Linked DNA regions of Homo sapiens. The protein of the gene in region 1 purifies or fractionates together with the protein of each later gene. This does not show direct contact. Each region holds a gene or a part of one and is shown in the gene's direction. Other genes may lie near its edges.

The links. The genes of interacting proteins can lie anywhere in the genome.
Region 2: the proteins of CHST12 (region 1) and RMND1 purify together in Homo sapiens (affinity purification with mass spectrometry; 2 studies listed by BioGRID and IntAct, with this or other methods). This does not show direct contact.
Region 3: the proteins of CHST12 (region 1) and EDA purify together in Homo sapiens (co-immunoprecipitation; one large-scale study listed by IntAct). This does not show direct contact.
Region 4: the proteins of CHST12 (region 1) and PON2 purify together in Homo sapiens (affinity purification with mass spectrometry; 3 studies listed by BioGRID and IntAct, with this or other methods). This does not show direct contact.

The regions. Positions count from the first base shown.
Region 1 is NC_000007.14:2,427,611-2,431,110, forward strand, and holds part of CHST12 (carbohydrate sulfotransferase 12), read left to right. Parts: intron 1-3,500. UniProt on the Homo sapiens protein: Catalyzes the transfer of sulfate to position 4 of the N-acetylgalactosamine (GalNAc) residue of chondroitin and desulfated dermatan sulfate.
Region 2 is NC_000006.12:151,445,627-151,449,126, reverse strand, and holds part of RMND1 (required for meiotic nuclear division protein 1 homolog), read left to right. Parts: intron 1-3,301; 5' UTR 3,302-3,315; coding exon 3,316-3,500. UniProt on the Homo sapiens protein: Required for mitochondrial translation, possibly by coordinating the assembly or maintenance of the mitochondrial ribosome.
Region 3 is NC_000023.11:69,955,113-69,958,612, forward strand, and holds part of EDA (ectodysplasin-A), read left to right. Parts: intron 1-1,914; coding exon 1,915-2,020; intron 2,021-3,500. UniProt on the Homo sapiens protein: Cytokine which is involved in epithelial-mesenchymal signaling during morphogenesis of ectodermal organs. Functions as a ligand activating the DEATH-domain containing receptors EDAR and EDA2R. May also play a role in cell adhesion.
Region 4 is NC_000007.14:95,407,696-95,411,028, reverse strand, and holds part of PON2 (serum paraoxonase/arylesterase 2), read left to right. Parts: intron 1-927; coding exon 928-1,128; intron 1,129-3,333. UniProt on the Homo sapiens protein: Capable of hydrolyzing lactones and a number of aromatic carboxylic acid esters. Has antioxidant activity. Is not associated with high density lipoprotein.

The DNA.
Region 1 (3,500 bases):
CTGTAGGGTGTTTGTAGATGCCCTATAAGTTGAGGATATCCTCTTTGCTAAGTTTGCTGAGAGTGTTTATAATGAATGGATATGGGTTTTGTTGTTCCTTCCTGTAGGAGTTGATTTTTTAGCTTGTTAATATGATAGATTACATGGTTGATTTTTGAACATTGAGCCGTTCTTGCATACCCTACTTGGTCATGCCGTGACTCCTTTTTGTTTGTTTGTTTTTTGAGATGGAGTCTTGCTCTGTCACCCAGGCTGGAGTGCAGTGGTGCGATCTCGGCTCACTGCAACCGCCACCTCCCAGATTCAAGCGATTCTCCTGCCTCAGCCTCCCGAGTAGCTGGGACTACAGGCACCCGTCACCATGGCCAGCTAATTTTTTGTATTTTTAGTAGAGACGGGGTTTCACCGTGTTTGGATCTCCTGACCTCGTGATCCACCCACCTCGGCCTCCCAAAGTGCTGGGGTTACAGGCGTGAGTCACTATGCTGTGATTCTTTCTATACACTGCTGGATTTGGTTTATTAATATTTTGAGCATTTTTGCATCCAAGTTCATAAGTGATATTGGCCTGTAGCTTTCTCTCTCTCTTTTTTTTTTTTTTTGAGACAGAGTCTTGCTCTATCACCCAGGCTGGAGTGCAGTGGCACAATCTCGGCTCACTGCAAGCTCTGCCTCTCGGGTTCAAGTGATTTTCCTGCCTCAGCCTCCTGAGTATCTGGGATTACAGGCGTCCACCACCATGCCCAGCTAATTTTTTGTATTTTTTAGTAGAGACGGTATTGTGGGATCTGGCCAGAAGCCCACAATGCAACGGGGCTCTTTTATTTGTTCCCAGGCGGATCAGCAGGTCGAGAAATAATAGACACACACAAGACAGTGAAAGCTGGGTCCGGGGGGTGACCGCCTTCTGGTCCTGCGATGCCGCCAATGCACTGGATATACCAGCATTTATTATTAAGTTTAGTGAGGGCGGGGGTAGGTTAGTGAGGGATTTAGGGTCATTTGATTATGAGGTGAGATGGTCACATGGGGATGAAGTAATTCTTTAACATAACATCTGTATGCAGAAGTACAGTATACAGAGATAAGAATTTACAATATAGCATGTGCATCAGTAATTTCTAACAGCCTTAAAACAGAAACACAGGCTTTCCATAACCTATGATTAGCAAGATATTAATCAGCAGTAATAGTTGCAGCAAAAGCTGGTTACAAACAATCCATAGAAACAGGACGTGAAGCTAGACAGCCAGTTAGACCAGAAATTCTCAGAAGGGAGTATGCCTTAACCCTAAAGAGGCCTAGAAGAGCCGTGGCAAGATGAGGGCGTTTATAGCACTATCTTATCCATATGGACAGGCGCCCCCCATGCGTCCGTTTGTAGGCTCTCCACAAGGGTCGCATTCCATTCCCAGAGCTATGAACATCTGCTTTTCTGGGATAGGAATCTTGGTGATGTGAAAGCTCCCTGACTGCATGTCCGTTCATAGGCTCTCTGCAGGGGGAAGCATATCACGTGCTGTTGGCTCATTCTGACAGTCCAACCTGGCATTGTCTTTACACAATCCTGAATGCAACTTTGTATTTACAGTAATCAGGAGCATTTCATCTTTTATTCCATAGCAATAGTTTCAGGGGGTCTCCCTACAAGACAGGGTTTCGCCATGTTGGCCAGGCTGGTCTTGAACTCCTTGACCTCAGGTGTTCCTCCTGCCTCAGCCTACCAAAGTGCTAGGATTACAAGCGTGAGCCACGACGCCCGGCCTCTTTTTTTTTGTACTTATTTTCACTGGTTTGGGTATTAGGATGATGAGTTGGACATGTCCTCTCTTCTCCTTTCTGTAAGAGATTGTATAAAATTGATGTTGTTATTCTTTGAATGTTTGATAGAATTCTTCAGTGAAACCATCTGGGCCCAGAGATTTCTTTTTAAGGAGCTTTTACGTTACAAATTTAGTTTCTTTAATTAGTATAGGATTATTCATTTTGGTAGTTTGTGGTTGTCAAGGAATTGGTCTGTTTCATCTAGGTTGCTAAATTTGTGGGCGTAAAATTGTTTGTAATAGTTCCTTATCCTTTCAATGGCTGCAGGATCTATAATTTCATTCCTTGTCTTGTTCCTGATAAAGATAATTTGTAGGTTTTTTTCATTTGTTTGGTTGGTTTTTTGTTTTTGTTTTTCTTTTGAGACAGGGTCTTGGTCTTGCTAAGACCAAGGCTGGAGGGCAGTGGCACGATCTCGGCTTACTGCAGCCTTGACCTCCTGGGCTCAAGCGATCCTCCTGCCTCAGCCTCCAGAGTAGCTAGGACTACAGGTGCATGCCACCATGCACGGCAGATTTTTGCATTTTTTATAGGGATGGGGTTTTGCCATGTTGTCTAGGCTGGTCTTGGACTCTAGGGCTCAAGAGACCCTCTCGCCTCGGCTTCCCAAAGTGCTAGGATTATAGGAGAGAGCCACCGTGCCCGGCCTTTTCTGCTTTCTAATGCTCTTGGCACCACAGTGACTGTAACATATGTTGTATTTTCATTCTCATTCTATTCTGTGTACTTTAACTTTTTCCTTTGCTATTATTTAGAAATGTGTCATTTATTTTCCAGGAATTTGTGTTTGTGGATTTTCCTGTTGTCTTTTCTGTTATTGATTTCTAGTTTTATTCCTTTATATAAAATATTTCAATTCTTTTATTTTTATTTATTTATTCATTTTTATTTATTTTTTTGAGATGGAGTCTTGCTCAGTCACCCAGGTTGGAGTGCAGTGGCACAATCTTGGCTCCTTGCAACCTCTGCCTCCTGGGTTCAAGCGATTCTCCTGCCTCAGTCTCCTGAGTAGCTGGGATTACAGGCGCCTGCCACCATGCCCAGCTAATTTTTGCATTTTTTTAGTAGAGACGGGGTTTCACCATGTTGGCCAGGCGGGTCTTGAACTCCTGACCTCAGGTGATCCACCTGCCTTGGCCTCCCAAAGTGCTGGGATTACAGGCATAAGCCACCATGCCCAGCCTAAATTTTGTATTTTCAGTAGAGACAGTTTCACCATGTTGGCCAGGCGGGTCTCCAACTCCTGATCTCAAGTGATCCACCTGCCTCGGCCTCCCAAAGTGCTGGGATTACAGGCATGAGCCACCACACCCAGCCTAAATTTTGTAATTTCAGTAGAGACAGGGTTTCACCATGTTGGCCAGGCTGGTCTCCAACTCCTGATCTCAAATGATCCACCCGCCTTGGCCACCTGAAGTGATGGGATTACAGATGTGAGCCACCGTGCCCTGTCAAGATTTCAATTCTTTTAAATTAGCTGAGGTTTGGTCTACCATGGTGAATGTTTTGTGGACACTTAGAAAAAACTGTGTTCTCTTGTTAGGTGAGTGTTCTGCATATGTCGGTTATGTCCTGTTGGTTGCTGGTGTTGAGTTCTTCTGTATCCTTGCTGATTTTCTGCCTCATAGTTTTGTCAGTTATCAAGAGTGAAGTGTTGAAGTCTCCAGCCATAATTG
Region 2 (3,500 bases), on another chromosome or scaffold:
AAAATGCTGGGGTTACAGGCGTGAGCCACCGCGCCAGGCTTTTTTTTTTTTTTTTTTTTTTTTTTTGAGACAGAGTCTCGCTTTGTTGCTCATTCTGGAGTGCAGTGGCGCAATCTCCGCCTCCCAGATTCAAGCCATTCTCGTGCCTCAGCCTCCCAAGTAACTGGGATTATAGGCCCATGCCACCATGCCCGGCTGATTTTTGTATTTTTAGTAGACACGGGGTTTCGCCGTGTTGGCCAGGCTGGTCTGGAACTCCTGACCCCAAGTGATCCCTCCCAAAGTGCTGAGATTACAGGCGTGAGCCGCCATGCCTGGTTGGAGGGCTTTGGCTTTTATTAAGTGAACCGTGAAGCCACAGCTAGATTTCGCGTTGAGATTCAACTTCAAAGGATCACTTTGGTTGCTGTGTTGAGAAGAAACTGTAGGGGGCCCAAAACAGAATCAGGAAAACTGGTTAAGAAGCTATTATAATAATCCATGGGAAGGATAGCAGTTTGGATCAGGTAGTATTATTACTGATGATGAGCAGTGGTCCCTAGAAGGCCCTTGGGATTTACTGAGAAGTTGGATATGGAGAATAAAGAGTCAAGCTGGACCCCACGTTTTTGGCTTAGCAGTTATAAAGATACTTATTACTGCTCATGAATGGGAAAGACTGGGAAGAAAGGGATGCAAGGGATTCTAGGGGTATAAGGGAGAGGTTAGAATGGTAGACCATGGAGTGTAAACTGGATATGGAGGAAGTGAAGTCATGGGGAGTGAGAGACAGTGAAAAGGTGGTTGGATCATTGACTTGTGGGTCCTGTTGGGGTTGAAGAATTATTGGAATTGGGTAATAGAAGGAGTGAGATGCAAAGATAGGAGGTGGTGCTTAGAGAGTAAAATGGATGAAACTGAGATGAGGAGGTCCGATGTATTGATAATGACAATAGGGCCCTGTCTGATAGAAAAACAGTGTAAGGCACAAATGTAATCTTAGGCTTTCTAGAAGGTGCAGTGATAAAAATGGGCTGGGTCCGGTGGCTCACGCCTGTAATCCCAACACTTTAGGAGGCCAAGGCAGGTGGATCACCTGAGGTCAGGATTTCAAGACCAGCCTGGCCAACATAATGAAACCCCGTCTCTACTAAAAATACAAAAAAATTAACTAGGCATGGTGGCAGACACCTGTAATCCCAGCTACTCGGGAGGCTGAGGCAGGAGAATCGCTTGAACCGGGGAGGCGGAGGTTGCAGTGAGCTGAGGTGGCACCACTGCACTCCAGCCTGAGTGACAGAGCGAGACTCCCATCTCAAAAAAAAAAAAAAAAAAAAGAATTTACTCAAAGAGAATAAAAAGAATCCAGGACTGTAGACAAACTTCTAAAATATTTTATAGTTTCTTCAAAATTAAGTGGTTCAACTGGCATGGCATAGTACTAATTAAAGGTGAACTACAGTAGCCAATTGGACTAGAATGAAGCACAGAATGCGAGCTTTTGAAGGGATTTTGGAAGCAGCAGGTTCTACCTCCTAAATATCACTGTGAATCATCTTTGTCCTTATCCTGAAGAGAGGTAGTAAATACAAGGTAGTGGGTAAGAGTGTTGACTTTGGAATTGGGAAAGCCTGGGTTTTATTTTAGTTACATCTCTGCAGCTTCTTAACGGTGAGCACTTAGCCTCTTTAAACCTCAGTTTCCTAATCAGTGAAATGGGATCATTATGAGGTGAAGCCGAGCACTTAGCATGTAGAAAGCGCTCAGAGTGATGTCAGAGTCTGTCTTGTTTCCTCCTACATATCATCACCAAAAATTTGTTTCATGAACATGCATTTGACCGTGTGACTCTGAGTTAAAAGCTCAGCTTTCTCCCCACCTGTAGAAACTTTTTAGGATGACTTTATATATCCTTTGGTGATCTGGCCATCGGCTCTTTTGGTCCTTACCTCCTGCAGCTCACTCCTACCTCCCCGAGATGGGGAGATGAATAGGACTCCATGCCTGGGGTGTTTAACTTGCTGATCCTTCTGCCCTTTCAAGACTCAGTTCAAATGTCACCTCTGTGACAATGCCACACTCTTCACATGCTCCTTTCTCTGGACTAGAGCAATTTGTGCATCTCGTTCATTTTCCTCTGCTAGACTTTGAATTCTGAGATCATTGATTCATCTATCTCTAGCACCTAACATATTATTTTTAAAAAAAGAATTATTGATTACTACGGTCTAACTTTTTTTTTTTTTTGAGACAGAGTCTCATTCTGTCGCCCAGGCTGGAGTGCAGTGGGGCAATCCTGGCTCACTGCAACCTCTCCCTCCCTGGTTTGAACGATTCTATATCTCAGCCACCTGAGTAGCTGGGATTAAAGCCACTATGCTTGGCTAATTTTTTTTTGTATTTTTAGTAGAGATGGGGTTTTGCCATGTTGGCCAGGCTGGTTTTGAACTCCTGGCCTCAAGTGATCCCCCCAGCCTTTAGCCTCCCAGAGTGCTGGGATTACAGGCGTGAGCCACCATGTGTGGCCTACTATAGGCTAACTTTAAAATAACACATTTCATACTGTAAATAAGGGGGAAATTCTGTTTACCTTGTCTGGAATGTTCATGTGTGTATCTGACATGCCTCGCACTCCCATGCCCAGCCCCAAGCTGAAAAGCACCTTCGCCTTCTAGAATCAGCTTAGATCTTTCTGGGAACCTTTCCTGATTTTTTTTTTTTTTTTCCTGAGACAGAAAAAGGGCTGGAATGCAGTGGTACAATCATGACTCACTGCAGCCTCAGTCTTCTGGGCTCAAGTGATCCTCCCACCTCAGCCTGTGAGTAGCTGGGACTACAGGCATGAGCTGCCATCACACCCAGCTAATTTTTAAATTTTTGTCATTTTTGTAGAGATGAGGTTTCACCATGTTGCCTCAGCTGGTCTGGAACTCTTGGACTCAAGCGATCCACCTGCCTCAGCCTCCCAGTGTGCTGGGATTACAAGTGTGAGCTACAGTGCCTGGCCAGCACAGATTTTTATATACTTGATATGCTAATGAAGTAAATGAAGTGGTCCCATCACTATTTTTTTTAAGGTTCTTGTTATGTCAGTAGCTTTATAATCTTGTAATCTTCCAGGAAGAAGGCCAAATGTTGCTAAAGGCAAAGTGGCAGAAACACTGTACTTATATTTTTAACCTTGTTCTTTTACTAGAATTAACTTAGAATGTATCTGTTTTACAAATTTTTCTAACAGAAATATGCCTGCTACCTAGGGAAATATTATATATGTTTTAAACATTAATTTAAAAACTTGAACTTTGAATTCCTTTTCTTTTAGCTTGGGATGTGGTAATGCCAGCCACACTCCTCAGAGCCGTGGCCAGATCTCATCATATATTATCAAAAGCACATCAGTGCCGAAGAATCGGTCATCTAATGTTAAAACCACTTAAGGAATTTGAAAATACAACATGCAGCACACTGACAATACGTCAAAGCTTGGATTTGTTCCTTCCTGATAAAACAGCTAGTGGTTT
Region 3 (3,500 bases), on another chromosome or scaffold:
GTAAACAGCAGTTTAGTTTTATACTATTATTAGTACTTAGCTTATTTATATTGTGAGTTAAGTAACTTTCTGTGGGCTTATCAGGAGAACTAGCCAAACTTTATTATGTTGATTGTATGAGAAAATGCATTTTTACATTCCAATCAAGTGACTCAAAAATACTACTCAGTTGAACCATGTGAAATTGTTGATTGATATTCAACCATTTTTGACAAAAATGGCAGTTTATTTTGAAATGCAGTCCTGTTGACAAGATGGAAATTACCTACACATTGATTTATTAATTTTATATTTAATACATTCATGTATCCTTCAAGATGCTAATCCTACACCTTAAGGATATTGGGTAAATCACAGAATTTTGAAGAAAATTTGTGTGGAATATTGGGGCTTTCTTGGGTCCAACCCATTTTTTTTCCACTTAATCAGAGATGGAGCAGACATGAGGACTCTGGAATTTTTTATTTTTTGAACTGATAATAGAATGAAAATGCAGATTCATTTGTTCTATTTTAGGCCCCAAATTAACCATTCTATTTTGAAGATTAAGTTTAATAATAATAGTAATAGCAAACATTTATTAAGTGCATGCTACATGCTAAGTACTGTTCTAACTCTGCAACTGTTTTATCTGCAAAGTACTATTATTATCCCTACTTACTGATGAGGAAACTAAAGTTTAAGTAACTTGTTCCAGGTTATACAGCTAGTAAGTGGCAGAGTTGGCATTAGAATCACTCAGTCCTACTACCGTGTTTACTGTTTACCTCAAGCACATGGTTTTACCACAGTAAAGCACTCATGCTAAAAGATTATGATTCAATTCAGCAAATATATATTTAAGCTATGATTATTAGTGAAGCCAGACCCATTCACATATGAAACATATTGTATTATTATCAGAGACCATTATAAGACAGTAGAGGACCAGGTACCAAAATTAGTCTTATAGACCACAAGTGCTATAGGAATCTCAGAAGAGGAGAAAATAATTGTGTACTTTGTCATGACTAACTCCCAGAAGAGCATTGACAAATAGTACCTCAGTATTGGATGCACAGCATTTTGGGAACAAACCAAAATTACATCATAAATAGCAATGTGGCAAAATCATGAATGTGTAATAATGAAGTCCAATGGGGAGCAGCAAATTCAAGGTTTTCTTTCTTTCTTTCTTTCTTTCTTTCTTTCTTTCTTTCTCTTTCTCTTTCTCTTTCTCTTTCTTTCTTCTTTTTTTTTTTTTTTTTTTACAGAGTTTTGCTCTTGTTGCCCAGGCTGGAGTGCAGTGGTGCGACCTCAGCTCACTGCAACCTCTGCCTCCCAGGTTCAGGCGATTCTCCTACCTCAGCCTCCCCAGTAGCTGGGATTATAGGCACCCCCCACCACCACACCCGGCTAATTTTGTATTTTTAGTAGAGATGGGGTTTCACCATGTTGGTCAGGCTGGTTTCGAACTCCTGACCTCAGGTGATCCGCCCACCTCGGCCTCCCAAAGTGCTGGGATTACAGGCGTGAGCCACTGCTCCCAGCCAAATTCAAGGTTTTCTGTTCAATTTTCTGTTCAACTCAAATTCTGAGTGAGCATCCTCAGTATGTGTGGGAAGTTAGAAATTTGTGGCTAGGCTCTCTGAATCCCAGAAATATATGAAGAAATGGGACCTGATGGATTATTTATTAGATATTCAGGGTGGAAGAAATGGGATTCAGAAATTAACCAAAATGTCATGCCTACATGATTGGAATAATAATGGTATCAAAAATAAAATGGTTTGTACAGTGGAGGGGAAGATGGGCTCAGGCTTTAGACACATCAAACTTAAGGTACAGGTAGACTGTCTATGGAAAGCTGGTTTTTTATGTTGGCTATGACTGAGTGGGGTCAACCTTTGACTAATGTACTTGTAATTTTTACAGATGGCCCTATTGAATTTCTTCTTCCCTGATGAAAAGCCATACTCTGAAGAAGAAAGTAGGCGTGTTCGCCGCAATAAAAGAAGCAAAAGCAATGAAGGAGCAGATGGTAAGTCTACTCAGTTGATCCTTTATCACTTCTGAATTATTTGTTAGTAAAAGTATCCTTTTAAGAACTACCTTCTTGGTAGGGCATGGTGGCTCACGCCTGTAATCCTAGCACTTTGGGAGGCCCACGCGGGCAGATCACTTGAGGTGAGGAATTCAAAACCAGCCTGGCCAACATGGTGAAACCCTGTCTCTACTAAAAATACAAAAAAAATTAGCCGGGCCTAGTCCCAGCTGCTTGGGAGACTAAGGCAGGAGAATCGCTTGAAACTGGGAGGTAGAGGTTGCAGTGAGCTGAGACTGTGCCACTGCACTCCAGCCTGGGTGACAGTGCGAGACTCCATCTCAAAAAAAAAAAAACAAAAAAAAAAAACCACTACCTTTTCAAGTGTGCTTCATCATCTTATATACTGTCCACCACAGACCCAAGGTCATAGACTATTTCTGCAGCCTAACCTACCAATCAGTCCTTTAACATAGAACTAACTATACAAGGATCCTCCCTCCTCCAACTCCAGATACCTTCAGTCCTTTCTCAGTATGTCTGAGAGCCATGATAGCATTTGTATCTCTCAAAATCACCCTCTATAAGGGCCTCATCTCTCCCGGAGATGTCCCACACCTATTAAGGTCAACAGGAGGATTTGGTTCTATTCTTGGAATTGACAGTGTTGTACCCTGCTAGCACTTACATGATGTGTTAATTCCAATGATAATTTTATCAATGTTGGTATCCACTACCATGCCCAAATCTGAACTAGACCTTCTAGAACTAGTTTATAAGTTTCTTGTGGGCAGAGATTTCATTTCTCTTTGTATAAGCCTAGAATCTAGCCTACTATCTGGAACATTGTTGGTGATTGTTATGTAAGTCGATGATGTTGACTGCCCCTTCAGCTAGGCAGTGATGTATCAATGGAAACCATCCCTGTTCTGGGTGTAATAGCTTTGAGTTAACTAGCAATGCATTCTGTGGGGCATAACAAAATGTTGAGCTAGCTCCTGGGCAGGGTCTTTGAATTGCTCTGATATTTCAGCATCACTCTGTCAATTGACATAATGCTACCCCTTTGGGCACAGGGGTTTGTAGAATACATAGCTCTGGGCTGCTGCAAAGGCATCTGGATTCAAAGACAGCATGTGTCTGGCTACATCTGCCAATAATATGTGTCTGGAGGGTTACAAAGCAATATGACTTTATACAGATGAAAATGAAAATTTTAAACTGACATTTGTTGATGTGAGTAAGGGCCACTGATGGAAGCAGTTTTAGAGGGCGGAAGCTATTAAAGAGATGGAGCCAGGACTTTGTCAGTAGGGGCAATAAGAAGTATAACTGGCTGAAATCTGAGAAAGAGCTCAGAACAAGGACCCCATAATAATACCAAAAAAAAAAAAAAAAAGAGCCAGAGCAGTAAGATAGGGTTTTCTAGTCAGTGGAGGTGGCAGCAGCATTGAGCCTTTGAATGGAGAACTGGACC
Region 4 (3,333 bases), about 93 Mb from region 1:
ATGAATATTTTTAATTTCTAATGAAATTTCATTTCTAATGAAATTAAAAATATTGCCTATCTAGGGCCTATCTATGCCTATCTAGGGCATAAGCATGTAACTTCCAATCATTCCTTCCAAAAATGCACTTGATAAAAAAAAATAGGAGCATAAATACCATCCAAGCATTATGGTGCTCTTTCAGAAAAATGAGACCTACCTTCCCTGTAGCTCTATATTTTTCATTTAGCAAAGAATAAAGCAGCTCTTTCAGAAATTTTTGCATAGAGTAATTGGAATTTAAATTTAATAACACCCTCACCTAACTGGTCTTAAAATGAAATTGTTTTTAGCATATAAATCTCTCACCTGAAGCATTGTACTATGGCAATTTTATCATCCATCTCTCTGCAAGTGTTTATTGAGTGCCTGTTCATTCTCGGCATGTCAGCTTTGTGAAGCAGGTAGAAATTGAACAGTCAACCTTAGTTTGACTAATAACTAAGCCAGGGAAATTAGAAAAATCCAGGAACTGAGTAAATGGAAGCTAGGTAAATGTTACTGACTGCCTAACCAGCTCACCAGCCAATCAGGCTCTCTCCAGCTCTGTACTGTGGACAGCTCTGTCCTTACGTATAATTGTTAAACCCTACATTTCTTGCTGTCAAAAAACATGCCCTGATGGCACTAAGTTCTTTCTTCTCTTATGGTAATCCTGCCATAATTGCTAAATGACCTGTGTTCAGATTACCTGGTACCATACAAAATTGTTCTCTGGCAACAATATTATAGTATATTGTATATGACTATAGTCGTGATTTTTAGCTCGTCTTTTCCTCTTACCAAAAATTTAAAGCACATGTTGCATAAATCTTATGAGTACTTAATATTTAATATGGAGACCAACAGGCCTTTTGTTTCCTCTCACATGCTATTTTTCTTTTTCAGTGTGAATGACATCACAGCTGTTGGACCGGCACATTTCTATGCCACAAATGACCACTACTTCTCTGATCCTTTCTTAAAGTATTTAGAAACATACTTGAACTTACACTGGGCAAATGTTGTTTACTACAGTCCAAATGAAGTTAAAGTGGTAGCAGAAGGATTTGATTCAGCAAATGGGATCAATATTTCACCTGATGATAAGTATGGCCCCTTATAGAATATCTTCATTTTTCTTCAGTTGTGGTGCTGGCCAAATTCTTTACTTTGCTTTCTTTGTCAATGTGAAAATAGTTTTCTTGACATTTATGGTATATTATACATATAATATATAGATACACTATATATATAATTATATATGTTTTGTATATATATTTACATATACTTAGTCACATGTATTTATATGCAAATACAATACCATATTTAAGTAAACTATATAATACAGTAATATATATGTATTTATATATAATATATAAAGTTTGGAATACATCATTGTCAAATTTAATTTTATAAATATAAATTTTAAAGTGTGATCATACTGATGCATACATATTGAAGTATCAGGTATTTCCTTTTAAATAAATGTATTATTTTTATTGGCTATACATTATTCCATTATAAGGATGATCTTAAACTAATTTAACCAATTCTCTATTGATGGATATGTGTATAGGGGTGGGGAGTTCTACATAAAAAATATTTTATACTTCTTATTTACCATGGAATTTTAAACAAGTATTTTTTTTAAAGAAAAAGTCCCTAGGAGAGTGTTTTTTTTTTGTTTTGTTTTTTGGAGATGGAGTCTCACTCCGTCGCCCAGGCTGGAGTGCAATGGCATGATCTCAGCTCACCTCAACCTCCGCCTCCTGGGTTCAAGTGATTCTCCTGCCTCAGCCTCCCAAGTAGCTGGGATTATAGGCATGCGCCACCATGCTTGGCTAATTTTGTATTTTTAGTAGAGATGAGGTTTCTCCATGTTGGTCAGGCTAGTCTTGAACCTCCAACCTCAGGTGATCCGCCCACCTCAGCCTCCCGAAGTGCTGGGATTACAGGCATATGCCACCACACCTGGCTCTAAGAGAGTATTATAACATAATGGTTAAACTTGCAGATTTTGGACTCATACAGGCCTGGGTTCAAATCCCACCCAGGGCACTGGCTAAATGGTTCTATGAGCTACTTTTCTGTAGAACAGACCCCTAGAAATAGAACTATTTGCTCAAACAGTGTGATTCTTTTAAATGTTAACTTTAATAGATATTGCCAAATTGTCCTCCAGAATTATCTCATTATTTTTATATGCACAACCACAACCTATAAGAGAAGATATTAAATTCTTGATAGCTTTCTTATCTACTGCCTCAGCACACTGAAAAATTTAAACTACTACAAATACAACATAAAATAAATTTGGCACTCCTTGACAACTAAATGCCCTTATTTTTGTAATCCAATTTCTCCTCCTTTCTTGTTGACTATAGAAAAAGAATGTAGAATCATTTAATTTAAATTGTCTCTAACTGACCTGATCCAACCTCTGCAGCCAAATCTGTTTTTCACTCTTATATTTCCATTATGAGAGTCAAACTTTCCAATCACCCAAGCTAACAAAAAAATAACAATAATGAAAAGGGAGAATCAGCTTTTACTCCTCTTTCACCATTCCTATCCAGCCTGTAGGCAGGTCCTGTTGGTTCTACCTGTGCCTCCTTCCTCTACCCCCAAACTCCTTTCCCTTTGAGTGAGACCTGCCTAATTTAGGTTGTCATCCTCTCTGACTAGCATATGAGACTTTCTTCCAATTTGTTTTCTGTCTACTTGGATTTTTTTCACTCTTGCCAATTTTGTCTGTCTATCTCTATTAGCCTTGAAGGGCTCCCCAAAGAGGGAACTCTGTCTTCCTCACCTTTGACTCCTTATGCCAGTACAGTGCCAGGCACAAAGCAAATGCTCAGGAATTGTGGAACAGAACTGACCATTTGTTGCCACTTTATTATTCTAAGATTTCAGTGGAATCCAATTGCTTATCAAATCAAGGCAGGGTAAAGGGTTGGACTTTGTTTAACAGGCCACCTCCAACCTCCCTTTTCTACTATTTCCATGCTTTCTATGCTTTAGACAAAGAACTCATTGTTTTAAACATTCCTTCCTCTTCTTGCTCCTGTGATTCTGCTCTTGTGCTTGCTTCTGCCTGGGAAGTGCCTCCTCCGTCCTCATCTCAAATCTCATCTCTCTTTACACAGCCACTGCAGATGCCCCTTCCTTGGTGAGCCTTTCTGTGTCCTCGGAAGTTAGCTATTTCTAGACCTGAACTATTTCTCATGCTTATTAGGTGTTTAATGTGTACAAACCAGTGAGATTTGTTCCAACACACTATAAACTTTCAAGGAGAGAGGCTGTGTCTTCTTC